Homo sapiens: one gene and its partners. The protein of the gene in region 2 interacts with the protein of the main gene of each other region in a biochemical or structural test. Each region holds a gene or a part of one and is shown on either strand. Other genes may lie near its edges. The genes, in order: USP1, PHLPP1, SUGT1 and BRAP.

Region 1 (7,319 bases), on a different chromosome or scaffold from region 2:
TCAGGCCAGAAGTAACCAATTTGCATGTAGAAATGGAAAAGAATACAGTTTTGCTAAAGGAGAAATTCTGCTGTAATCCAAGTGGATTAAAAGTCTCATAATTTGGGCGGGACGTGGTGGTTCATGCCTGTAATCTCAGCACTTTGGGAGGCCGAGGCGGATCACGAGGTCAGGAGTTCGAGACTAGCCTGGCCAACACTGTGAAACCCCGTCTCTATTAAAAATACAAAAATTAGCTGGGCGTCGTGGCAGGCACCAGTAATCCCAGCTACTTGGGAGGCTGAGGCAGGAGAATTGCTTGAACCCAGGAGGTGGAGGTTGCAGTGAGCCAAGATCATGCCATTGCACTCCAGCCTGGGGGACAGAGCAAGACTCCATCTCAAAAAAATAAAAATAAAAGTTTCATAATTTGAAGATTTAAAGGGCGGAAAAAAACCACACTTCTTCTATACCTTTAGACTGAAGTACAGTTGGCCCTCCACATTCATGGGTTCCATATACATGGATTCAACCAACCACAGATCAAAAAATCTTATGAAAAAGGTACACAAAGTTCCAAAAAGCAAAACTTGAATTTGCCACGTGCCAAGTGTTAAATACTATGTTAAATCCATGTGAATGATGTGTAGGCATTGTATTAGGTAATTAAGTAATCTAGAGATGATTTAAAGTATAGGTGGGATGTGCATAAGTTGTATGCAAATACTATGCCATTTTATATATGGGACTTGAGCATCCTCGGATTTTGATATCCATAACGGTCCTGGAACCAATCCCCCATGGATACCAAGGGATGACTGTACACAGAAACAGTGCCTGTGAAACTTTGGAAGGAAATATGCCTGGCATTTACCCACACAAGACTGACAAATATAGGATTGAGAATGCTGTGAACCTATTAAATCCCATTGTTTCCAAAGGGATTAGCTGTCATTAAGAGTGGGGTAACTGGGGAGCACACAGAAACTGGGAAAAAAGTTTCGGGGCTTAAAAACTCATCTAGGCAAGAACTGTGGCTAGAATTTCTCCCACAAACAACTGACTGAAAGCAAAAGAATGAGAAGCATATTAAATTTTTACATTAATCATATTGCCAGAGACACACCAAACTTCTGCTATTGCTGTTGACAAGCACAGTTGTGGAGGTGTTTGATTTTTCTGAAGCAGCATTAGCAGAAACCTCAGTGTCTAGCCACTTGTCCTGTGGGCCTTGACAGACGGGACGTAGGATATGCATGGCACTGGTGCAGATCATAGTGGGTATAGTGTGGTTCTAGGGTCAGCGGTGCACGCAGCTTTCTGATGGTGGTTTCCTAGGCATGGCAGCAGCAGTGTGATTCAGAGACGTCATTTCCTGATCATAGAAGAGTCATTGCTTCCTTGGTGGCCTGGTTCTGGGAAGACTTTGGGACTCATTCCTGAAAAACTAATCTAGAGCCTATTTAATCAACCCTCCCAAGTATTCAATATCTTTGTGTTTATACTAGCTAAAATGGATTCTATTTTCCGCAAATGAATCTTAACTGATACCACACATTGTGTACAGGAAGAATAGTGGCTGCAGACAATAGGATCTCAGGAATATGGGAAAGTAGAATTGCTTATCTGTTCTCGTAGAGTTTGAAAGTAGCAATAATTATGCTAGTACTAGAAAATGAGACACTGCCACTCTGTGGTGCACAATGGCTAAGACTGACCTATATACATTTTCTAATCTTGTCCTTGTGTATTTCGTGATCTGCTGGTTCAACATCTGTTTGTACGTTAAACACCTCAATCTTAATATTCTAAGAACGATGATCCTTCCCATTGAGCCTACTAAGACCCCCATTTTAGCAAGGACCAACACTGAGTTGCTCAGGTTAAAAAAAAAATCGTTACTCTTTGTTTTTTTTTCTTTTTTCGGGTGGGAGGGTGGAGGGCAGGGCCTCACACTGTTGCCCAGGCTGGAGTGCAGTGGTGCATCTCGGCTCACTGCAGCCAGGGGATCCTCCTCCCTCATCCTCCCGAGTGGCTGGGACTACAGGCACGTGCCACCACGCACGGCCAATTTTTGGAGTTTTTTGTAGCGATGGGTCTTGCCATGTTGCCCAGGCTGATCTTGAACTCCTGGGTTCAAGCGGTCCACCGGCCCTGGCTACCCGACCTGTTTTTTCTTACATTATCATACAGCCAATCCATCAGTAGAGCTCGTTGGCTGTGCTCAAAATATATCTTGAACCCTACCAGTTTTCAACATCCCACCATCTTATTCCAGACTACCATAATTTATTCCTTGGCTTATTGAACCAGCATCTTGGCTGACCTTTCCGCTGGTACTTTTCTTTTTTTGAGACAGAGTTTTGCTCTGGTTGCCCAGGCTGGAGTGCAGTGAGGCGATCTCGGCTCACCGCAACCTCCGCCTCCTGGGTTCAAGCGATTCTCCTGCCTCAGCCTCCGGAGTAGCTGGGATTACAGGCCTGCGCCACCACGCCCGGCTAATTTTGTATTTTTAGTAGGGACGGGGTTTCTCCATGTTGGTCAGGCTGGTCTCGAATTCCCGACCTCAAGAGATCAGCCCGCCTTGGCCTCCCAACGTGCTGGGATTACAAGCGTGAGCCACCACGCCCGACCCTGCTTGTACTCTTGAAGGTCAACGTGTAATCCCGCCACTCCCCAGCTCAGAATCATCTAACGACTCCCATCTCCTTACTCGGCTTACCCAGGGTCCTGCCTTTCTCACTCATCTCATCTCCTCCCATCTTATTTCCCAAATTGACTGCGCTCTAAGCGCCCTGGCCTCCTTGCTTCTTTTCAAAACACCAACCACATTAAGCTTCAGGACGTTTGTAACTTGCTGTTCTCTCTGCCCGCACCATTCTTCCCTCAGATTCCTCCAAGCTTTTTCATTCAGCTCTGCTCAAATGTCAACTCAAAGAGGTCTTTCCAGGCTATCGTATCTATCACTTATCTTAGCGTCACTTGTATCTCCCTCTCCAGAATGTAATGCTCCTTTATGACAGGGAATGCCTTTACATCCCTCGCGCCTTGAAAAATGCCTGGCACATAGTAGGCACCTTAAAAATACTTGATTAAATGGATTTGGGCTGAACGTATCCTGCTTAACTGCAGCACTTGAGCTGAGGTCACCTCACCAAAGCAGGCACACAAACACAAAAGGAAGCACACAACCAGATGAGGCCTGCCTGCCGCTCCTGAACCCTTTGGGAGGGCTCGCGCGGGAACCCTGGGAAGCTCCCGCGGCCGGAGCTGGGCCTGAAACTGTTCTTTCGTTTCCTCCTGCGGCCGAGAAAGGGAAGAGGTAAACAGGCGAAAATGAGGCGAGCAGGGGCTGAGGACCGGGCCTCAGCTCTACAGCATTCGCCTGAGCATGTATTGTTATCCGTGGCAGCGCCTTGTCTCATTGGATGGCCCTAGGCCTAGTGTGGCCGCGACTCCGAACTGAAAGCCCAAGCGCGGCGGCGTCCAGCCGGGCAGCCATTTTCCGAAGCTGCTCTCTTGGTAACCCCGCCCGGGCGCGTACGCACGAACGGAGGCGGGGCTTACCGCGAGGGCCTCGCTCCGGAAGCCGCACCCTCCGCGGCGTCCCACCGTCGAGGATTAACAAAACGCCAAACAAGATTTTAACAGTCGGCAGCGAAAGCGCGCACTCGAGCGCCAATGAGAGCGGAAGGAGGGGCACCGCGCCTGAGGAACACTCCGTATGTCGAACAATGATTGGCTGGAGCCCACCTTTCTTCTTTTTTGCTATTAGATGGGCTTGCTGCTCCCGCCCATCTAATTGGCTTTGGTCTAGGTACTTCTGATTGGCTTCCCCCGGGCGGTGGGAGGCGCGGTTTTGGGGATTGTTCATCATGGATTGGTGAATTTGGGCTCCTTCTCGAGGTGGTGGCCCATCCCGTCTGCTCTCTGTCCCGTCTCCCGACCCGTACGCTTTTCCCTCAACTCGCGCGCACGAATGGTTAAAAAAAGGGTGTGAGGCTCGAGCCCGCCAGCCAGGCCGCTAGCACCTCGCGCGCGCCCTCAGCGAGGACCCGCACGAGCTGCCCGGCTCTGTGCCTGCGTTGTTTGAAACTGTGGAACCCGTTAGGCTTTTGGGGAACTACAGTCCCAGCTGGCTCCGGAGCCCGTGCGTGCCAGGGGCGAGTGGCCGTCGCGAGACGGCTCCTGCCTTTCGTGTCTCTGCAGCGTGGAGACTGGAACCGGCAATTTCAAAGGACGCCACGTTCAATCGCAGCGCTGGCGCGGGCGGAGGCTAAAACACGGGGGTCCTGAGACTGAGGAAAACGCGCCAAGTTCCCCTCGGTGGCGGAGTGCTAAAGACCCTAGCGGTTCAGGCGTTCGGCGAGCGGGGCCGCTGCTTGTTGCGCTCCTGGCTCTCCCGGGGCGGGCGCAGATGGGCGCCGCTCCCGGGATGTAGTTGGTGTTGGTGCAAGACGGGAGCGAGCGGCGGTCGGGGTTCCCGCTCTTGGGAGCGGATGGTCACTCCCCCGCGGGGAGGGCGAGCCGACCAGATTTTCCTGGGGCCGGGGACCCGGCGGGCTCGGGGCAGGGACTCACCTGTCGCACCCACACTCATTCGGGTTGGACTTGCCGGCGTCACCGCCGCGGACTTCGCTTTGGGCCATGACCAGGTAAGGAGGGCCTGGGAGGAGGGGCCGGCTCCCGGGCGCGGGGGCAAGTTCGGCCGGCGCGGGAGAGGAGCTGCCGGGGAGACCCCGGGACCGTGTTGGCCTCGCACCCTGGTCGACCTGCCAGGGGGAGCCGTGTGTGCCTCGGGCGTGGCGCCTGTCTTGCCGCCGCCGGGACGCGAGAAGGCAGGTGCGGGCTGGGCGTAAATAGGCCAACTCCGCGGCGAGGGCGCCCGGCGCGGGGGTGTGGGCCGAGGACGCCGCCGCCAGCCTCCCCCGACCGGGCAGCCTGGTCGCTGCTCGTCCTTCCAGCTTTCTTTCCGTTCCCGAGAGCGGTGAAGGATGGGGAGAAAGAAACGTTTCCACGCAGGTTGCCCTGTGTCGGTAATTGCGAAATTTTACCGCGCATTTTCTTTCACTTACACTTTTTCAAGAAGTGTTTAGAACGCCGCGTGTCTTAAACCTTGGCGAAGATGTCCTTGTAGATTTTTGTTGAAAAATCGGAATCGAGTCGTGTCATCTTATAAAGAATTTAAAACTATTGGGACTGAGTGTTCACGCTGTCAACAGATAATGGTCGATTCGTCGTGCTTTCTGCGAAAGTTGATTTAGTTACAGGAGAAATATTTTGGATGTAACAGCCCCCCAGTTACAAGGAAAGCCAGGAGCAAGAAATAGCAAGGAAGATACTGCACCTGGCAAAATGTTACATTCTCGGTGTGAGCTTTGCTTTGAGGGGCTAGGAGGTTTGGTTTTTTGATTAAGCTGACGATCCGCTATTTCACCTGCCTAATCATTCTTCCCTTCTGTGTAGTCTGGTTACTCTGTCGGTTTGAGATCCAGTTTCTGTCATCCATTAAATTGGCTCTCGAGAAAAACCTTTTATCAGAATCATTAATGCTTGGCGATCCCTGAGAACTTAGCGCAGGTTGGTTTATCATTCAGAAGACAGCGCTTCCTCAGAAGCATTAGGTAGACAGGAGAGTAAGTGAAGTTGGAGACAGAATGGAGAGATGGATCAGCTTTCCAGTGCTTCCTGATTTGGGTCTCAGAAATGGTTTCAGTGTGCTGAGTTCAGTATGAATTCCTAGATCAGTGTCAGCCATGTGAAATGCTTATTAAGGATGAAATTTGAGTGAGTCTTGTGTAGTTCATTTTATTACTCTGCATTTTAAATTTGAAACTCGTTGCTGAAGTTTTGGGCTTTAAGTAATTTTATGGTAATACTCTAGTCAGATAATTTTTCCTCCCATGTCCTGAAAAATAGGCCTGATGTAGAAAATATTAACTCCTACACTCCTACAAATGTTGCCATTTTTTTTCACGTGCAAGTTTTACTTTAAAACAGGGTGGGAAAGTTGCAAATGGCAAACCAAATCATCTTTTTTTCCTACTCAAAGCACTATTTTTAAAATCCAAAGTTTTTTAAAAAGTTTGGAAAACGAGTATTGTGGTTTCTAGTGCATTAAGAATTGGATTTACACAAAGTGCATCGAACAGTTTTTTTTATCACGGTCTCAACTTTGCTTGTGTTTTATCTTTCACTTACGGTTTTAGGTATAACTTAACACCATCTCTATGCCTTGAATGCAAATTATTCTTTAATAAGCTTTTTAGGTACTTTATTTTCATATATCCATGTTAATAACTAGAAAAGGCATTGGAAGAGAGGACTCATCGTCCAGCACTACTTTGATTTTCCATTCATCCTTTCCTACCTTGTACTTGAGAATTAGAGGTGGTAGTGCTCAGTCAATATTTTCTGAATGAATCATTATAATGAAATATTAAGTTGTTTTTTTTTTGAGACTAAGTCTTGCTCTATGGCCCAGGCTGGAGTGCAATGGCACGATCTCGGCTCACTGCAGCCTCCGCCTCCCGGATTCAAGGGATTCTCCTGTCTCAGCCTCCTGAGTAGCTGGGATTACAGGCGCCCGCCAGCACGCCCGGCTAATTTTTGTATTTTTAGTAGAGATGGGGTTTCACCATGTTGGTCAGGCTGGTCTCGAACTCCTGACCTCGTGATCCACTCGCTTCGGCCTCCCAAAGTGCTGGGATTACAGGCGTGAGCTATCGCTTCCGGCCCTTGAAATAATAAGTTTTTACTACTTATACTATTTTACTGTAGGTCTACTAAATAGGATATTTTGTAATGCGACCCTTAATCCATAGCAGGCTGATTTTAAAAATTCAGTAGCTTCTGTTTTTTGTTCTTTAAGAACAGTGTGGTATGCTTCTTCATTTAAGCAATAAATATTGAGTGCTTATTGGCAGGCATTAGGTTTTCAAATGTTAATTTCTAATTTGTACCATTCCCTTGGTAAATTTGTTTTCAAAATTGATGATTTTGTTGCCAAAACTGATAACCAAAAACTAATGAAACTTTCTCTGTGATTAACAGATATAATTGGTGATTACAACTTTCCTCTATAAATTAACTCTTGACACTCCTTGGGATTTGAAGAAAAAAATGCCTGGTGTCATACCTAGTGAAAGTAATGGACTTTCAAGAGGTAGCCCTTCAAAGAAAAACAGACTTTCCTTAAAGTTTTTTCAGAAAAAGGAAACTAAGAGAGCTTTGGATTTCACAGATTCTCAAGAAAATGAAGAAAAAGCTTCTGAATATAGAGCATCTGAAATGTATGTATCTTACATTTCTGTACTTTAAAAATTCTACAGTAAAGCAGC
Region 2 (7,037 bases):
TTTCTGAAATTTAAGTGGATTTCTGATGAATCTTTTACTTGTAAAGAAAACCAAATCGTAATACAGTAGCATTTGCAGTATCTGAAGACAATTTGTCAACTCGATGACATGGCTTTTAAAGTTTATGGTCCAGGAAATAGATGATTTTTTATGTAAGATCAACAACTGTATTCTTTTCTCCTTTAATTCATGTAATTTGTAAAATATTGTTATTTTACAAAAGCATTAAAAATAGGTGCCCTTTAACTACATGGAAGGAACTGTATATAAAAACAAGGGATGTATTAGAGTTTGAACAAATTTTATATGGAAAGAGTTTGCTTATGATTGGATATATCCATTGTGATAAGTGTCCACGGAAAGGTTTTGGGTGTCACAGTTAACAAAGTTTGAATCTGTGTTTCCCTTTGATTCTCTTCAAGAGTGTCTAAAATATTCTAATGGGTAATAAGCACTTTCTTTTTTCTCAAAACCTCATCTCAATATTAAAAAAGTCTTTCCTGGTTAAATCTTAAAATGTTTGGCATGATCTTTTAATCTTTTTGTTTTGTTCTTTATGAAAAGCAGTAATTGTTACCTCATTCTGCACTTACTGCCTTGTTTCTATATGTACAGCATAAATGCATGTATGCCTCTGAGTATGTGCTTACATATACTCAGATGTGTGGGGGTGCCACACAAAGTATCCACCCTATTCTTGAACATGAAGCCAGTGTACAGGTGTCCTAGAAGAAAAATGCCTGATTGTTGCGAAGTTGTCTAATTGCTTATTTTGGCTTTAAAGCAAAGTTGAGCTTATTTTAAGCCTAAGTTAATATACCAGACATCTCTGCTGTTATTCATTTGCAGTAGAACAAAATTTAGTGTATGGTGAATCCACTTGAATTTTTGCAAAGAAGTTCAGTTATTGATGAACAAAAGCGTAGTCTCATTTATGGAAACGTTGTCAGGACTCCACATATAGTGAAGGTTTGCACCAGGCTGGAAGTGATTCCTAGAAATGATCTCTGTGTTCCAACAGAATATAGGACACCTCAACAGGACAGAGTTACATTTTGGTAGTAGTTTTTTTCTGTAGGAAGAGGATAATTAATGTTTGTTTTAGATGACATCTTTTACAGGGTTTTTGAAAATTCTGTACCCCATTGGTAATTTTATACATAACTTATTTTTAAATTTATTGCTGCATGTTGTTTTGTTTACGTATAGTTGGGGTTAAGGATAGCTAGGAAGTTGCTTTCAAATTCTTTTGAATATTTTTCTGCATTTAAATTGAGCTTATCTACTGTCTTGAGGGTCTGCTCTCTTGAAGATCACCTTTCTGTTCAATTTTAGTATTTATAACCTGACTAGGGTTGTTTTTTAGAGGCTTTGAAAGCCATTTGTGGTTGCTTTGAATATTTAAATATTTATCTGGGTAAAGTAAAATGAAAGTCTTTAATGAGCGAGAAGGCCCTGGATAAAGGTACTATCTAATTACAGAGTTGTTAATGAAAACTTGGTTTGAAAATTGTTATAGCATCTACCAGGCCACCATTCTCTTAGCTGACTTAAGATATGGGAAAATTTAATTAGCTTTATCTGAAGTTACTTAAGTATTTAATATCCTTTTAAAATCGGACATCTTAAATTTTGCCTGAAAGAGAGTAATTATAGGTTAAAAAATTCAAGAACTTAAGGTTGCTCGACATAAGTTATGGACTCCTAAACATGAATGAGCTTTTGTTTTAGACTCTCTGGGGAGCCTTTGTCATTGATGTAGGGCAGCATTAAACTATATCTTTTTATATTTTTTGACTCTTTTCTCCCAGCACTTAGATCTGAGTAGTCTAGCAATTTCTGTTCGAATTTTAGTAATGACAAAGGGTGTTGACAGAATAAAGTGCACATTCACTGTACCTAGTGAATCTCGGACAAGGTATTTTTGTGTGTGACTCCTTGGGATTTCGCGGGAACAATCTTTTTATCCCTGTCATATTTTATTTATTTTCTCTTCTGGGAATGATCAAACCTTAATGTGGTTTCCTACATGCAAACCAAGAGGGGAGAGGTGGTTCAGCATTAAGCTATAATATTGACAAGCAGGTTCTTATTACTATAATTACAGCAGTATTGAGTAACGCGGTTCGAACGTGTGACACCAGTGTGTGCTTGAACAGTCCCTTTAATTTTCAGTACAGAGGCTTTAAATTTTTTTTTTAGTATTTTACATTTTTATATTTATATTTTATATTTGTTTGTTTTTGTTGTAAAGTACATGCCACCCTTCACTACTATGGCGTGATAACATCTACAATACATTGGTTTTTATTATCTTCAAACATCTTGAAGGGTTTTTACATAAATTATTTCATTCGCCCTTTCAAAAACAGTGTTAAGGAGGAGTCAGTGGCAATCCTCTTTTCAGATGGAGAAACTGATGCACAGAGAGATCTGACTCGTCGTATTTCCGTCCTCGGGAGGGCGGAGAATAGAGAGCTTGGGTATTTTATTTTGCAATTCGTATCACTTTCCATGAATCGATGCTAAATTAAATTTACACTTGAATTTTTCCCTTGGTTAAAAGCATTCCAAAAATATGCTGTTTTTGTTGGTAATGAGGTGGTATTATCCTCTAGTTCAAAGTGGTATTTCTTGTGAAATGTGGATGGTTCTGTTTATCATGGTGCCTTTAAAAATGTAAAGAACCAAGACGGACAAATAAGGAGACAGTATGGAAAGAGTACTGAAGTGTTCTAAATATCCTGGTTGCAAATAGTCATGCTTGGATTTAAGTTGATATGAATTAAAGTTTACGTAATAGTTCTTTATTCTCTTATTCAAGCATACCTATTTGTTAAACTGTAAATCTTCATTGGGAAGTAGAGAATTAACACTTTGCCTGAAAAGTGGGTAACTTTTGAGGGGTGTGGGTGTGTGTGTGTGTGTGTGTGTGTGTGTATGTGTGACAGTTCAGTTGCTTTAAAACATGGCTTTTAAAGTAACTGAAAATATTTCTCATTAAATATCTTATTTGCTTAAACTTATTATTAAAAAATCGAGTTGTCTTTTAATGATGCTTTCTTGATGTTATTGTGCTCTTGTATAATTTTTATAATTCATGTTATATAGTGCTAGAGATAGTAAGTTCTTCTCCTTGAATTTCATAGTTATTCCTAAATTCGTGTGTCTTTTGTACTCATTGAAGTAATTGTAGGGGCAGGAGATGAGTGTAAATGAATTTGTGTAAAGTTTTAGGTTGAAAGTTTTATCTTTTGGTTGCTATAAGATTATCAAATCACCCACCTTAAATGATTGATATATACAAAGATAAGTTATTTTTTAAGTGTAAAATGTTTTTGTTGTTTCTCATTCTCTTCTTAGAATCCTGAAATTAGCTTTTCATTTACTGGTAACATAACATTCACTGACATTGTATGTGATCTAAGCCTAGTATAGTCCTTGGCATTTTAGTTTAACATTTGTTGAATTTAATTTGTGGAATTTTGTTAAGCAGCTGGTGGTGTGTGCCCTGATTTTTCAGCTTCCATCCTGTTTGGGTCCCCAGGGATGTGTTAAACACACATACACACAGCGGCATTTCTCCCATGGCAGGAGATTTTAGATGTGCTACATACTATTAATATCTTCTATTTCACGTGAGTGAACTCTGGATTTTGAGAGAATAGCTCTCTCTGAAAGTTTTCTTAGAGTTAACAGGTTTCTCCCAACTTTTCAAAGGCATCTCGTACTTAATTTTGCAGTGAATTTAATGAGACATCTGTCAAATGAGGCATCTTAGATTTAATGATTTTGTTATGTGCCAGGGTTTAACATAATTCAGTCTATCTGGACTGGAGAAGGGTTTGATTGTACTGTGAAAGTCCAGAGATCCTGAAGCCGCTCAATAGAAAAACGATTCCTTTAAAGACGCCTGACATTTTGAAAAAGAGAAAGAGATGTTATCAAAATGTCTAAAACAGCCTGGGAAAATGAAGTCTTTTTTTTTCTTTAAAGTTCCACCTTCTAAACCCATTCCATCCCTTTAATCACATGCATCTGGTGGAACACTGGTAATGAGGGGTTTTGAATCTGGCCTGACGTCACTGTGATTCTACGGCAAACCCTTTTTTATACTTACCTTTGGCTTTCTAAAGATAATATAATTAAACAAAATCCACCATATGAATTCATTAGATATATTAGATATTTATAACCTAAGGCTGTATGACTGACTGGATTTGTATGAAACTTCAACTCCAGAAACTTATGATAAATTGAAACTCAAGTACTTAGGAAGAATAGACTTTAATGATACTTTGATTAAAAGATGTTAGTATATTTAGGTAACTGTGAAATAGCAACTCTTTGAAGATGTGTGATATTATGCTTTTTATCAAGCATAATAACAGTTACTGGATTAATGAAGTGTTGTTATTCTTTGACTTTAGAGTTGGAATGGTTTTGTTGTGTTACCATGACTTGGCCTCATATACTTTTTGGTATGTTAGGTGAAACAAGGCATAACCATTTTGTAATGCCACATGCATACTGAAGTAATTTTTTTCCCTGTTGTATTTTTTACATTTGAGATTTTTATACATCGTAAAGTGTGTTTAACAATAAAGTGTCTTGTGGAGGTGTAAGCCTAGTGGCCTCTGAGTTTGTGACCTAGAAGTTAATAATGAAAACTCCATAAAATACTTTGTTTGGAGGTTGCACATATTGTATGATTTTGGAGATATCAATACTTTAGAAAAACACAAGCAAAAAACATCCAGAATTTTGGCATATTTTTTTCTAACTGGAGCTTGGCTAAAAGTAAATTAGCCTTGCTTCTAGTTTGTGAAAGCATTCAGTTGAAGACTGATGAAATTTGAAATATTTGGTTTTGGACCATTTCAATAATGAGTGAAATCTAATTAGAAAGTGAAGTTAGAGAGAATTTGAATTGGTTGTAATTTTTTTAAAGGGTTTTTCTCACATTCTGTTTAAGCAGGAAGAGATTTGTATTTGTTGCTCTCTATTTCTTCTGAATCAGACATCTGAGGAAGAGCAGGTGGAGAATGAATCTTTTCATATACCTGCCTCAGTTAATAATGTGTTAGAGTGTTTGGGCTTTCTTTTCAAATACCAGGCATGTTTTTAAATACAGCAAGAGCTTGGCTGGTGTGTTGGGGGTGGGGGTTGGGTCAAAGTCACTCTCCTCTTCAAAAACAGAACTTTGGGAAACAATTTTTTCCTTTTATCTCACACTGTGAGAGAAAATGTACTGCTTTTTAGAGAAAGTAGTCTGAGAGTTGGGAAACTTGGCATGACTTTGGGCATTCATTTTAACCTACCCTGGGCTTTGATTTCCTCATTTGTAAGACGATGGGGTTGGAGTAGAGCGAGTCCAAGATCTCTTCCAACTCGTAACATTCTGAGGCTTCATTAGAGAGCCTGTTTTTTTTGAAGGGCTTTGAAAGTTGTAGTTGTTTTAAGTTCTGTAAGACATGGCTATGGGCTTAAAACTGTCAAATCCCCTGCCTTTTCTTATGGACTTGGACCTAATGTACACAAGTCAGCTGGAGGTTGCCAACCAAACAAAGCAGACCTCCTCTTTGGTGTAGATTAGGACAAGAATCGATGTTTGATTACCCCGTTCCCTGTCATTCCTACTCCTGAAGTAAAATTCAGCATGCCAGAGATGAGTATAAAGTACATCCTCTTTTAAGTTAAAGTGAAATTCTTAAATTAACTTAGCAAGATGCCTTCATAGTCTAGTTCATCAAGTTTACTCTAATAACTGTATTAGAGGGATACAAATGTGTAAAATTTGCTGGCTAGTTAGCTTTATTTATGGTGAGCTGTGTGCTTGCCTACCGGTGCTTAGAGTCAGTAGGAGAAAAAACATTTTAAGAAAATGGATTTTTTGCACTGTTACTTTGGACAGGTAATAGAATTTAGGATGTTGTAGAGATAATTTAGTCCAACATCTGTATTTTTATAGATGAGAAAAGTAAACCTGTGAGGTAAAGAATCTGGTCCAGAATCATTGGTTAAGTCAGTTACAGAGTTAGGACCACCACCTAGGATTTTGATGATCTGTCCAGTGTTCTTTTTTTCCCACACTGTGAATGTGTAATACTTACTGTCTTTGGTGGTTCTTTATATTAATACTATTAAAAATGAAAGTTAAAGAAATTGTGTGCTTTACACAGTTAGTCGTTTCTCTATTCAAGGTTTTTTCCTAGTTCTTTTCATTCTAATCAGTGCTTTTGAGGGGTTGCATATCACTTTGACAGATTGTAAGAAAGGAACTTCTGATGGAACAGGTGGGTATTTTAATTGCAGAGAGAGAAATTAGATTTCATCAGTGATGTTACCTTTGTGGGATGCATGATAGAACTATTGACAGTTGGCAGAGAAGAGGTACAGTGTTAGAAAATCAATGTTCTTAGTTCATTCAGTACTTTGAAGGTGAAATTGTTAAAAGAATAAAAGTGTTAGAAAAAAATCATTGAATTAAAAAAATAATTTGGGAGAAAAATTTAAGCATGAATTTTGAAAAAAATTTCCCTTTAAATATGTGTGTGTTGGCTGTGTGCGGTGGCTCACACCTGTAATCCCAGCACTTTGGGAGGCTGAGTCGGGCAGATCACCTGAGGTCAGGAGTTCGAGACCAGCCTGGCTAACATGGTGAAACCCTGTCTCTACTAAAAATACAAAAAATTAGCTGGGCCTAGTGGCGCACGCCTGTAATTCCAGCTACTCCAGAGGCTGGGGCAGGAGAATCGCTTGAACCCGGGAGGCAGAGGTTGCAGTGAGCCAACATTGCACCACTGCATTCCCGTCTGGGTGGCAGAGCAAAACTCAGTCTCAAAAAAAAAAAAAAATAATAAATAAAAAAATAAATATGTATGTATTAAAAAGATTCAACATTATCTTCTTTGAATTATTTTTAAAAAGATGTGTCAAAATTAATTGCAACTTAGCTTATTTTTCAGGTACATGTACGCAGTTCTACCTTTCTGTGACATAATTGAAACAACTTGTTCAGTATCTTTGGGCTTTTG
Region 3 (3,611 bases), on a different chromosome or scaffold from region 2:
ACGCATCAGACACTGAGCTAGGTGCTAGGTACTAGGTAAACAAAATTCCCTGCCTTCATGGAGCTTAGCTTGTGGTGGTGGAAAGAAGCCCTCAGCCTGAATACTCAACTTATGTCTGCCGTTTATTCCTTAACACATTAAACTATAGGTAATAGCATATGTTAGTCTAATCTTTGTTTAGCAAAGCTATTTCTTGTTCTGGAATATAAGTACAGTTACAGCAGAATAAGTACCAAGGCAAGATTGGAGAATGACCGGTTGTGAACAGGGACTTAGGAATATGTGTAGCATAGGATTTTATTTTAGAGTTGTTAAAATCAGATCAACAGAGCATGTTTTTATGGGCCATCTGACAAGACTAGAGGTAGCTTTGGAACCTCTTATTCCCTGGAATGCAAACATGTATTTGCATTTCATCCACTGTCAGTATGAGGAGACAAAAACGAAGTCAGGATTTTGGAGCTGGAATGGATCTTAAATACTATGTAGTCCAAACGTTTGGTTTTACAGATGCACTTTTTCCAGAGTGCTGTCATCTCATATACTTTTTTCTTCATACAGGTTTTTAATGTAACTCACTCAGATCGTTGGTGATAGACTCTCTCTTAAAACTTATTTATCCTAATCTTTTTTTTTTTTTTTTTTTTAAGAGACAGGGTTTTGCTCTGCTGTCCAGGCACACAATAGCTCACTGTAACCTCCAACTCCTGGAGTCAAGTGATCCTCCTGCCTCAGCCTCTCAGGTAGCTGGGACTGCACTACTAGTGCACTAAGCTAATTTTTAAATTTTTTTTGTAGAGACAGGGTCTTGCTGTGTTGCCCGGGCTGCTCTCTTAACTCCTGGCCTCAAGTAATCCTCTTGCCTTGGCTTCCCAAAGTGCTGGGATTACAGGCGTGAGCCACCATGCTTAGCTGATTTGCCCTAATCCTCTGCTGACATTCTGATATCGGACAACTAAAATTATAACATTGGGCAGCTATTTTGTATGATATATAGGGTAGTGGTTCTTAAGCTTATTGGTGAGTAACCTTCACTTGGGAAGCTTATTTTTAAAAATGTAGACCTTCATTACTTTCCTCCTGAGATTTTGAATCAGTACCTTTGAGAGAGGGTCCAGTAAATCTTTGTTTTGAATGAACTGATGGTTTTGAAGCAGGTGACCTGGAGGACTGCATGTAGAACACAGTGATGTCAAGGAGTAAAGGAGAGAACAGAAGTGAGATTAGCACTAATCACCTCTAATGCCTTATTTCCAGTAAAGTTTAGAGAAGAGGAAAAGCTACTTGGCTTGCTCCTTTGAAGGTTTTGTTTCCCTCTTAACACAGAAATTAAAAGGTAGAGGAGAGATGCTGAATGATGCTTTTTTTCTTCTTAATCTTGGGGGGTCATTATGATTAAGTTATTGAATCCATATCACCGTATGACAGCACATGATGAAAGAAAATCAAATGTTTGTTTCAATCAAAGTGAAACAAAATGAGAATAACTATTTGGGCAAAACACTTTTATCACTGCTAAGATATTACTAGAACTGAGCAGAGAAATACTCAGAGAGAGCCATGGCATAGTACTAATTAATAATGGGGTACCATTTAGCAACTGGAATATTCTCCGATGATGCCTGTTTAATTACCCATAGGTGCTAAGTGAATGTTAAAAATTACGGTGCTGGTTGAGTAGGCCGAGTAGAATTTGTGTTAGGGCACATCCCATGGAGATCTTTTTTACTGCTTAATTTTTTGGAGTTACCTCAGTAACTTAACAGGCAGGAATATGGTTTTAATGGAAAGGAAACCATTTGCCTTTAACAGCATTAGTCCCGCTAAGAGAAAGTTTTTGCTTGTCTAGTTTATTACAGGTCTTTGACTTTGTCAGTATATGGCAAATTTAGTATAAAAGATGATTAATTATCAAGGCTGATGAAATATAGGCAGCTGAAAAGAAAATTCTTAGCAATTCATACCTTAGAAGGAACCCTGAAGGACAGGACGCCATAGAAATCCTGTTTTTTTAAAAAAGTAATTTCAAGTAAGTTTGCAAATGCAATGCTAGTAAAAAGTATATAGAGGTATGTCTTTCACACTATCTTGTTACTATTAGAATTTTTGTAGCCATGTGCAGAGGAGAGAAAAGGTGTTGGATTTTCTGCAGTTCTGATTCAGTTCTAAGAATTTGGTGTGAAAAGAATGTTTGCAAAGGAGCAGGCACAAAGGTGAGAACAGGAATACGAAACACAACATCTGTAAATGACTAAATTCAGAGGGAATTTAGTGGGGCATATCTCTTAAATGGTTTTGAATAATTTGGTGTTTTAACCAATGACTTAATTTAACTTAGTGGGTATACTGTTCCCAGTCCCATTACTGATTTTTATTCCTCTGTGATAACATACACCCAAATAAAGACTGCTATGTATTTGACTTTAAAACTATAAAGATGTAAAAAAGGTTCACTAAGCCAAACACCTTAGAAAATAGCCTCAGCTATTTGCTATGTTTATATTATACCTGCATAAAAGTATTTATGTATAGATGTACTTACCTTACACAGTAAGTACCTAAAATTTGTAAATTGAATACTTTTGAATGTAAGCAGTTGAAGTAAAACCTGTAGTGAGTTCTTCAGTCAGTCAACACTAAACCTGTTTTGTAAATTTGATGCTAGTATTATACTGGACTTTCTCAAAATGAAGTACACCTATATATGCATATAGTATATGAGCATGTGTATTTGTACAAAAGCCCTTCAAAAGGAGTTCAGCTTTTATAAACACCAAAACACTCTCTGCCTGTAAAATGTTTTTGCTGAAATTTGTATCATTAACTCTCAAATTTACATCTTCATGTTTGAGATACGCTTTTAGGACTGTCTATGCATGTAGACTTTGGTCAACTCTCTCCTCCTCCCTCAATAAATCAGTTAACTTAAAAAATATATTGTGACCATTTTTATAAAATACATGTTCATAAAACAGATCAACATATTTAGCTTATACAGAAATAAAATTAAGTCAATCCACTCACAAAGAATTTCTATTTTGTAAAAATGTAGCTTGTATTTCAGTATAATAAAATCTGATGTAAGAAACTGTTGAGTGGGTTAAGTGGTTATTCTTAGTATTATATCTACTTTTTTAGTGTCACAGTTATTTGAGGTGCTGGTGGAAGGGGAGGTGTAAAAACACACAAGTTTTTGCAGCCAGAAAATGAAAACATTTTCCATGTGCTGACTAAATGGCAGCTGTCACATATTTCCTTCCATTCCGAGTCAAACTAGGACCTTGAAATCTAACTTGAGATGTTCCATCAGGATTGGTTTGTACCACTACTGAGAATTAAATGAGTATCTAATGAAGTACCAATAATACACATAAGTCTATACACACATACTAACATTTCAGTCAAGATTCAGCACAGCAAACTGGGCTGTATTTGCAACTTTTAGACTGGCCTGGTTAAAAGTAATTTGAGAAATTAGTAGTACCAAGTTGTGAAGAAATTTGTAATTCTTCCCTGTTGCCCTCTCTTCCTTTATTGAATGCTCATCTGTCCACTTCTCTTTCAAAGTAGACCCTTATTTTCATCCTTGAATACAATTTAAGTCTCCTTTG
Region 4 (7,037 bases), on a different chromosome or scaffold from region 2:
TACAGATGCTTAGCTCTTAAAAGAATTTTTTTTGGCCAGACGCAGTGGCTCACGCCTGTAATCCCAGCACTTTGGGAGGTTGAGGGTGGATCACGAGGTCAGGAGATCGAGACCATCTTGGTTAACATGGTGAAAACCCATCTCTACTAAAAATACAAAAAATTAGCTAGGCGTTGTGGTGGGCACCTGTAGTCCCAGCTACTCGGGAGGCTGAGGCAGGAGAATGGCGTGAACCCGGGAGGCGGAGCTTGCAGTGAGCCGAGATTGTGCCACTGCACTCCAGCCTGGGCGACAGAGCGAGACTCTGTCTCAAAAAAAACAAATTAAAAAAAAAAAAAAAGAATTCTTTTTAATGTAAACTGTTGAATATTTGAAATAGCCCACTTCACCTTAATGGGTCTTGTGTATCTTCATTTGTCTTCAAAGAAAAACCATTTGCTACCAAAGTAAATCAGTATTTCGAATGTGCTTCTCTTGTTTTTTGTTTATTAGCTAGTTGCTGTAAGCATTTCCACCAGAACTTGAGCCAAATCATAAGGAAGCTGTTTCTTTTAAAATACAAACCACCACCAAAAAATTAAATGTACATATTAAGCATTTGACTATTTTTATTTTTTTAAAAAGTATAAACACCAAAAAAAAAAAAATTAACATTGTATGAAGATGGAAAACAAGAAGATACACTTTCTGTAACTTTGTCTGAGGATTTAAATTACTAACTTGTGAATCCAATTTAAATTGAACTTAACTACTGGCTTCCCCCACACCCCGCCCCGACCCAGACGGAGTCTTGCTCTGTCGCCCAGGCTGGAGTGCATTGGAGCAGTCTCGGCTCACTGCAGCCTATGCCTCCCAGGTTCAAGTGATTCTCCTGCCTCAGCCTCCTGAGTAGCTGGGATTACAGGTATGCACCACCATGCCCAGCTAATTTTTGTGTTCTTAGTAGAGATGGGGTTTCACCACGTTGGCCAGGCTGGTCTCAAACTCTTGACCTCGTGATCCGCCTGCCTTGGCCTCCCAAAGTGCTGGGATTACGGGTGTGAGCCACCGTGCCAGCCCCAGCTTTCTTACTAGTAAAATTACATGGTTGATTTTAAATGTATACATGTTGACCAATGGCCTCTCAAAAAGCACATTTTAGATACTGGAGTAGAAGGAAAGAAAATGCATCTTCAAACATTTTTTTGGAATCTCACCACATATACTTTGTGAGATTTGTATATTGTAGGGTGTTAGTTTTTGTATTTTTGTATTGTGTATGAGCTTTTTTTTTTTTTTTTTTTTTTTGAGACGGAGTTTCACTCTGTCTCCCAGGCTGGAGTGCAGTGGTGTGATCTCAGCTCACTGCATCCTCTACCTCCTGGGTTCAAGAAATTCTCTGCCTCATCCTCCCAAGTAACTGGGATTACAGGCACCCACGACCACACCCGGCTAATTTTTTGTGTTTTTAGTGGAGACAGGGTTTCACCCTCTTGGCCAGGCTGATCTTGAACTCCTGACCTTGTGATCCACCCGCCTCGGCCTCCCAAAGTGCTGGACTTAACAGGCGTGAGCCACCCCGCCCGGCATCTTTTTTAATGTGACAGTTAAACACATCTTTAAAAGCATAGTCACAGACAAAAGAAGCATACAGTATAAACATTTCCTTGAAAACTCCTACAATATTATATTTGGAGGCAGCTTCAGACTGTTTTATTGGTGGTAACTGCTCGCTGAGCTCTTTTAGTTGGTAATAACTCCAGAGAAGCATCCTGTGTATATTCCTAACACTTGTTCACTAGCATTTAAGTTTAGAATGAGCCCCAAGTAAAACAATGGAAATGTATATAGAACTCTTAGTTCTTACATGATTTAATTATATCAAAATACATGAATTTAACTTACTTTAATGTAGGCAAACTATCAATTTTTGTCCATTTTCCTGTTTGTTAACATACCTCTCCTAGATATTCTTTTCTTGACCCAAATGAAATATTAACCTAAGGTCAAGCTGGGAGAGAGAAACAACTGAGATGAATGTCTTTACTAAAATACCGATAAATTTGTCAAACTCAAAAAAAAATTGACGTGATAAAATTGGGCATCCTTTGTGCTGGCTGCTGCACGAGGCCTCAGTTTTAGAGATTCCTTTCTTAAATGAACGTGGCTTCTTGAGAGATTTCCTGTAAGTATCTACTCTTCAGGGACTGTAGGTTAATGTGCTTTTTCTCTGTCCATAAGTGTGTGCTCCCTGACCTTTGCCTAAGTAATTCTTTCTCGTCTTCTGGCTGGAAGCGTCAAGTCAAGCACTGTCTTAGGAATGCCTTTCCTGACCATCTAGACTGTCATGCCCCCTAATTCACACCCTGTTGTGGCTTCCTGTACTGTTTGCTTTTTAATTTGATTTTTGTCTCTCCCTCCACTAGATTCTAAACTCTGTGGGGGCAGGAGCTGACTGTTTTTTGGACTTAACGTATCTGTTTTTGCTCACCACTGTTCCACACCTAGAACAGTGTCTGTCTGCTGCACATAGCAGGGGCTCAATCTCTATCTGTACAATGAGGGAATAAAGAAAAATCAGTGTTGTTGGTGCTGTCATCACTGAGTAGAAAGTGTTAAGTTATAACTTACTCTATGGAAAAATCCTTCAGGTCCAGCTATTCTTTTGTTCCTTTGTGTTCTATTATAGTCGTAGACACTTAGAGCTTGAGCTAGGAGTCTGGTCACATTTGAGATTTATATGTTAAGGTTTTGACAGCAGTCTCCCTTCCTGGAATGTCAGTTCTGTAAGGGCAGAGATCTTTGTTTTGTTCACCGCTGTACTCCCAGTACCTGGCACAGTGCTGGAACACAGGAGGTACTCCATCCCTGTTTCTTGAATGAATGAATAAATGAATGAAAATATTACCAATTTAAATTACTTGCTTAGAGTAATGATATTGAGGATATCCTGCCAGGAGTCAAAAAAGCAACTAGAAAACTATTATTAAAAGAAGAAAGGCCTGGCACAGTGGCTCATGCCTGTAGTCCCAGCTACTGGGGAGCCTGAGGTGGGCAGATCTCTTGAGCCTGGGAGGTCAAGGCTGTAATGAGCCATGATTGCGCCACTGGGCTCCAGCGTGGGTGACAGAGAGCGAGACCCTGTCTCAGAAAAAAGAAGGAAAAATAAAGTATTGCTGGTAGATGAAGAGTGAGGCTTATGTGAGGTGTTTCCTGTAGGGCGCCAGCCTCCCAGTGATGGACCTGACTGAACTCCCCAAGTGCACGGTGTGTCTGGAGCGCATGGACGAGTCTGTGAATGGCATCCTCACAACGTTATGTAACCACAGCTTCCACAGCCAGTGTCTACAGCGCTGGGACGATACCACGTGAGTGCAGGGGCCGAACCCCTCTGTGTACAAGCCCATTGCAACCCTTCCAGAATTAAAAAGAGCCACCAGCAGAAATGAACCATTCCAAGTATTTGACTTTATTCAAGAGGTCCTTTTTCTCCTTCCCTTTCCTAAGTTCAGGGAATCGGCATTCTGAGACCAAGTCCTTTTTTAGTATGCTGATTCTGAACCCTTGTGGAATTCCCCAAAGCAGCATGAGTTGTTCTTTCCTTCCAAGAGCCAGAGAGTGAAAAAAAAAAGCAAAGCTTAGTTTGAGGCTCTCGTGCTGCAGTGAAATCTAGGTCTGGAATCTCATGTATCAGCTGCACTTGGTGTCTGCCATTCACTCTGGGCTTCTTATCAACTGGGCTACAGCAGCCTAATATTTTAGCTTTGCTGGGCTGTTGATGGCTTGGTGGCCAGTAGAAATAGCAGTTACTAAGTATGAGATCTACTCTACAGCCTCCTGATTCCCAACATACCAGGTCTTAGTCATAGGTGATGTTGCTACAGACAAAGAACAGGTAAGGCCTGTACCTTTTTTTTACCCCCTAAATCCAGGATGGTTGCTCCCTTTGCAGACTGCACTGTGGGACTTAACCAGAAAGGTGTATCAGATGCTGGCCTTCTGGATTTCCCAGTACAGAGGGGAACCCAGAAATGAAATCACACAAGTAAATAAATCACAGCCATAACCAGTGTTACAGAAGAGCAGTGTGCAGCATTGGGACTGAGAACTGGGGCCCTAATGAAGCCAGGACCACCTGAGAAGTGGCATCTCCAGGAGGGTAATTAGGAGTTAAGCCGGGTAAAGAGCAGAACCCAGAGAAGGCAGTGGGGGAAGGGGAAGATCATGTTCCCAAGCACAGAAGTGAGGAGGGGTGAAAGTCTACAGGAATCTCTGTCCACCCACAAGTGGCCTGGTGGCCGGAAGAAGAATATCAGCTTCACAGAGCGGGGGCCATGCCTGGCTTGCTCACTGCTGTGTCTCTCACACCTGGTGGGGGACGTGGCACACAGTGGTAGACACTGAGGAGCACATAAATAAACTGGGTCTCTGCAGCTTATCACTGCCCTGCTTATTTAGCTGGACAGGAGTCTTGCTCCAATTCCGTGGAGTCCTCAGTCAATTCTTAGGTATCATTTGGGAGTTTTCCAAGGAATTGTCCAGTTGCCTTGAACAAAGCCATACTGAGATATGTGCATTCCTTAAAGTGTTTACCTGTATCTTCAGTCCATCTGCTATACCAGTTAAGTTCTAGGCAATTCTTTGTTCCCCGCCACTCCAGTTTTACTTTTTTTTTGAGACAGGGTCTTGCTCTGTCACCCGTGTTGGAGTGCAGTGGTATGATCACAGCTCACTGCCTCCTCAAACTCCTGGGCTCAAGTGATCCTCTCGCCTCAGCTTCCCAAGTAGCTGGGACTACAGGTGTGCACCATCTCACCCAGCTAATTGTTTTTTTTGTTTGTTTTGTAGAGATGGGGTCTCGCTATGTTGTCTAGGCTGGTCTTGAACTCCTGAGCTGAAGCAGTGTTCCTGCCTTGGCCTCGCAAAGTGCTGGGATTGTAGGCATGAGCCACGATACCCATCCCCAGTATTCCTTTTGATATAAATTAACTGTTACAGAACCATAGCATTTTAAAGTTGGAAGTTTCCTCAGGGACCATTTTTTCCAACAACCTCATTTTATACAGGAGGAGGACACAGGCCCAAAGATAAGAATTTGCAAGCTCAAAGTGTCATGGCCAGAGAATGCCAGAACTGGGACTAGAATTCAACCTGTCATATGGGATGTAAGACATGCCATTTGCCCTCAGAATCATGCAGTTCATTTAATGAGTTTTGAGCCTTGGTACATGCATAGAACTGTGAGAGATGCTGAGACAGAGGAAGCAAATTCAGGTCCTCTTTGGGGTGGTTTGGTCTAAGAGAGTTTACACTTGGACATAAACACATGTGGTTCAGGGTGGAGATTGGAAGAGAGAATGATGGCATCCCCAACCAGGGGTACTCAGGAAGGGCTGCAGTAGGAGGCAGTGTTGGTCTTTTTGATAGAGATGTCAGAGAAGGCTTTGGGAAGAGCTCCCAAAGATCTCATCAGGAAAATAGGATAAAATAATTTTTTGCAGAGAAAGGCAGGAAGAATTTAATAAACTGTTAATTATTATTATTATTATTTTTTGAGATGGAGTCTCACTCTGTCACCCAGGCTGGAGTGCAGTAGCGTGATCTCGGCTCACTGCAACTTCCACCTCCCGGGTTCAAGCAGTCCTCGTGCCTCAGCCTCCCGAGTAGCTGGGACTACAGGCATGTACCACCACACCTGGCTAGTTTTATATTTTTAGTAGAGATGGGGTTTTGCCATGTTGGCCCAGCTGGTCTCGAACTGCTGACCTCAGGTGATCCACTCACCTCAGCCTCCCAGAGTGCTGGGATTATGGGCGTCAGCCACTGTGCCTGGCCGATAAACTGTTGATTATTTTTTAGTAGACAGATGAGGTAGTATATCATAGAATGCTAATTGTTTGTTTACAAGTTTATTCTTGTAATTTTTTTTTCTTTTCAAGATCAAATTTACATTTCAGAAAGATCGTTTTGATCATTTGGGCATAGTGTAGAGAATTAGATTTCAGAACCAGTTCTGAAATCTAATTCTGTTGTTTTTAGTTTTTTGTTTTTTTTTTTTTTTAGAAGGGCTTTTGCCACATTGGCCAGGGTAGACTTGGCTTCAAGCCATCCTCCTGCCTCGGCCTCTCAAAGTGCTGGGATTACAGATGTGAGCTACTGCACCTGGCCTGTTTTCTTATTCAACCACTTTCACAGCCACCACACAGACCGAAGGGATGAGACAAAGCCAATTTCTACTTTCTGCATTCTGCTTTCTGGCTACCATTTCTGTTCTTTCTTTGAGTTTGTCTTCTGTCTTCTCTTTTGATGCTAAAGGAAGAAGTGGACTAGATCCTTTCCTTTCTCTTACACAGATAGAGCTGTGTCATCTGTGACACAGTGTTCTTCCTGTTTATTCCATTTTCTTGGTTTTATTTACTTAGTTGGGTAACTGTTACTAGTTATAGCTTTTTTTTTTAGACGGAGTTTCGCTCTTGTTGCCCAGGCTGGAGTGCAATGGCGCAATCTCAGCTCACCACAACCTCTGCCTCCTGGGTTCAAGCGATTCTCCTGCCTCAGCCTCCCAAGTAGCTAGGATTACAGGCATGTGCTACCATGCCCTGCTAATTTTGTATTTTTAGTAGAGACAGGGTTTCTCCATATTGGTCAAGCTGGTCTTAAACTCCCGACCTTAGGTAATCCGCCCGCCTAGGTCTCCCAAAGTGCTGGGATTACAGGTGTGAGCCACCGCGCCTAGCCACTAGTTATATCTTGAGCATTGTTTCTTCCTGGTGCCAGTTCAGTCAGCCTCAGCTATAACCCACTTTCTGTCCTAGTTGCCCATCTAACAAAAATACTCATGACTAGTATTTAGTATTATTTTGTGTGGAGTATAATAGAAAACAGTTAATGGATTTTTTCAACATTGTTTTTATTGGCTTTTTGTAAATTGAGACATGAATGCCTGATAGAGCACTGGTATCTTCCACATGATGTTCACGGTGCAGTGAGATATCATGTGCATTTCAATAAGTACATTAACACCTTTGTGTTTAGCCAGGTGCGGTGGCTCATGCCTG

Evidence for each region.
Region 1: the proteins of PHLPP1 (region 2) and USP1 form a complex in vitro, tested with the Homo sapiens proteins (one study listed by BioGRID).
Region 3: of the proteins of PHLPP1 (region 2) and SUGT1, one has a biochemical effect on the other in vitro, tested with the Homo sapiens proteins (one study listed by BioGRID).
Region 4: the proteins of PHLPP1 (region 2) and BRAP form a complex in vitro, tested with the Homo sapiens proteins (one study listed by BioGRID).

What each region holds. Positions count from the first base shown.
Region 1 is NC_000001.11:62,432,767-62,440,085, forward strand, and holds the start of USP1 (ubiquitin carboxyl-terminal hydrolase 1), read left to right. Parts: upstream 1-4,282; 5' UTR 4,283-4,634; intron 4,635-7,032; 5' UTR 7,033-7,101; coding exon 7,102-7,271; intron 7,272-7,319. UniProt on the Homo sapiens protein: Negative regulator of DNA damage repair which specifically deubiquitinates monoubiquitinated FANCD2. Also involved in PCNA-mediated translesion synthesis (TLS) by deubiquitinating monoubiquitinated PCNA.
Region 2 is NC_000018.10:62,718,518-62,725,554, forward strand, and holds part of PHLPP1 (PH domain leucine-rich repeat-containing protein phosphatase 1), read left to right. Parts: intron 1-7,037. UniProt on the Homo sapiens protein: Protein phosphatase involved in regulation of Akt and PKC signaling.
Region 3 is NC_000013.11:52,697,822-52,701,432, forward strand, and holds the end of SUGT1 (protein SGT1 homolog), read left to right. Parts: 3' UTR 1-3,088; downstream 3,089-3,611. UniProt on the Homo sapiens protein: May play a role in ubiquitination and subsequent proteasomal degradation of target proteins.
Region 4 is NC_000012.12:111,661,949-111,668,985, reverse strand, and holds part of BRAP (BRCA1-associated protein), read left to right. Parts: exon of another isoform or gene 1-28; intron 29-346; exon of another isoform or gene 347-751; intron 752-1,058; exon of another isoform or gene 1,059-1,266; intron 1,267-1,570; exon of another isoform or gene 1,571-2,055; intron 2,056-3,198; coding exon 3,199-3,347; intron 3,348-7,037. UniProt on the Homo sapiens protein: Negatively regulates MAP kinase activation by limiting the formation of Raf/MEK complexes probably by inactivation of the KSR1 scaffold protein.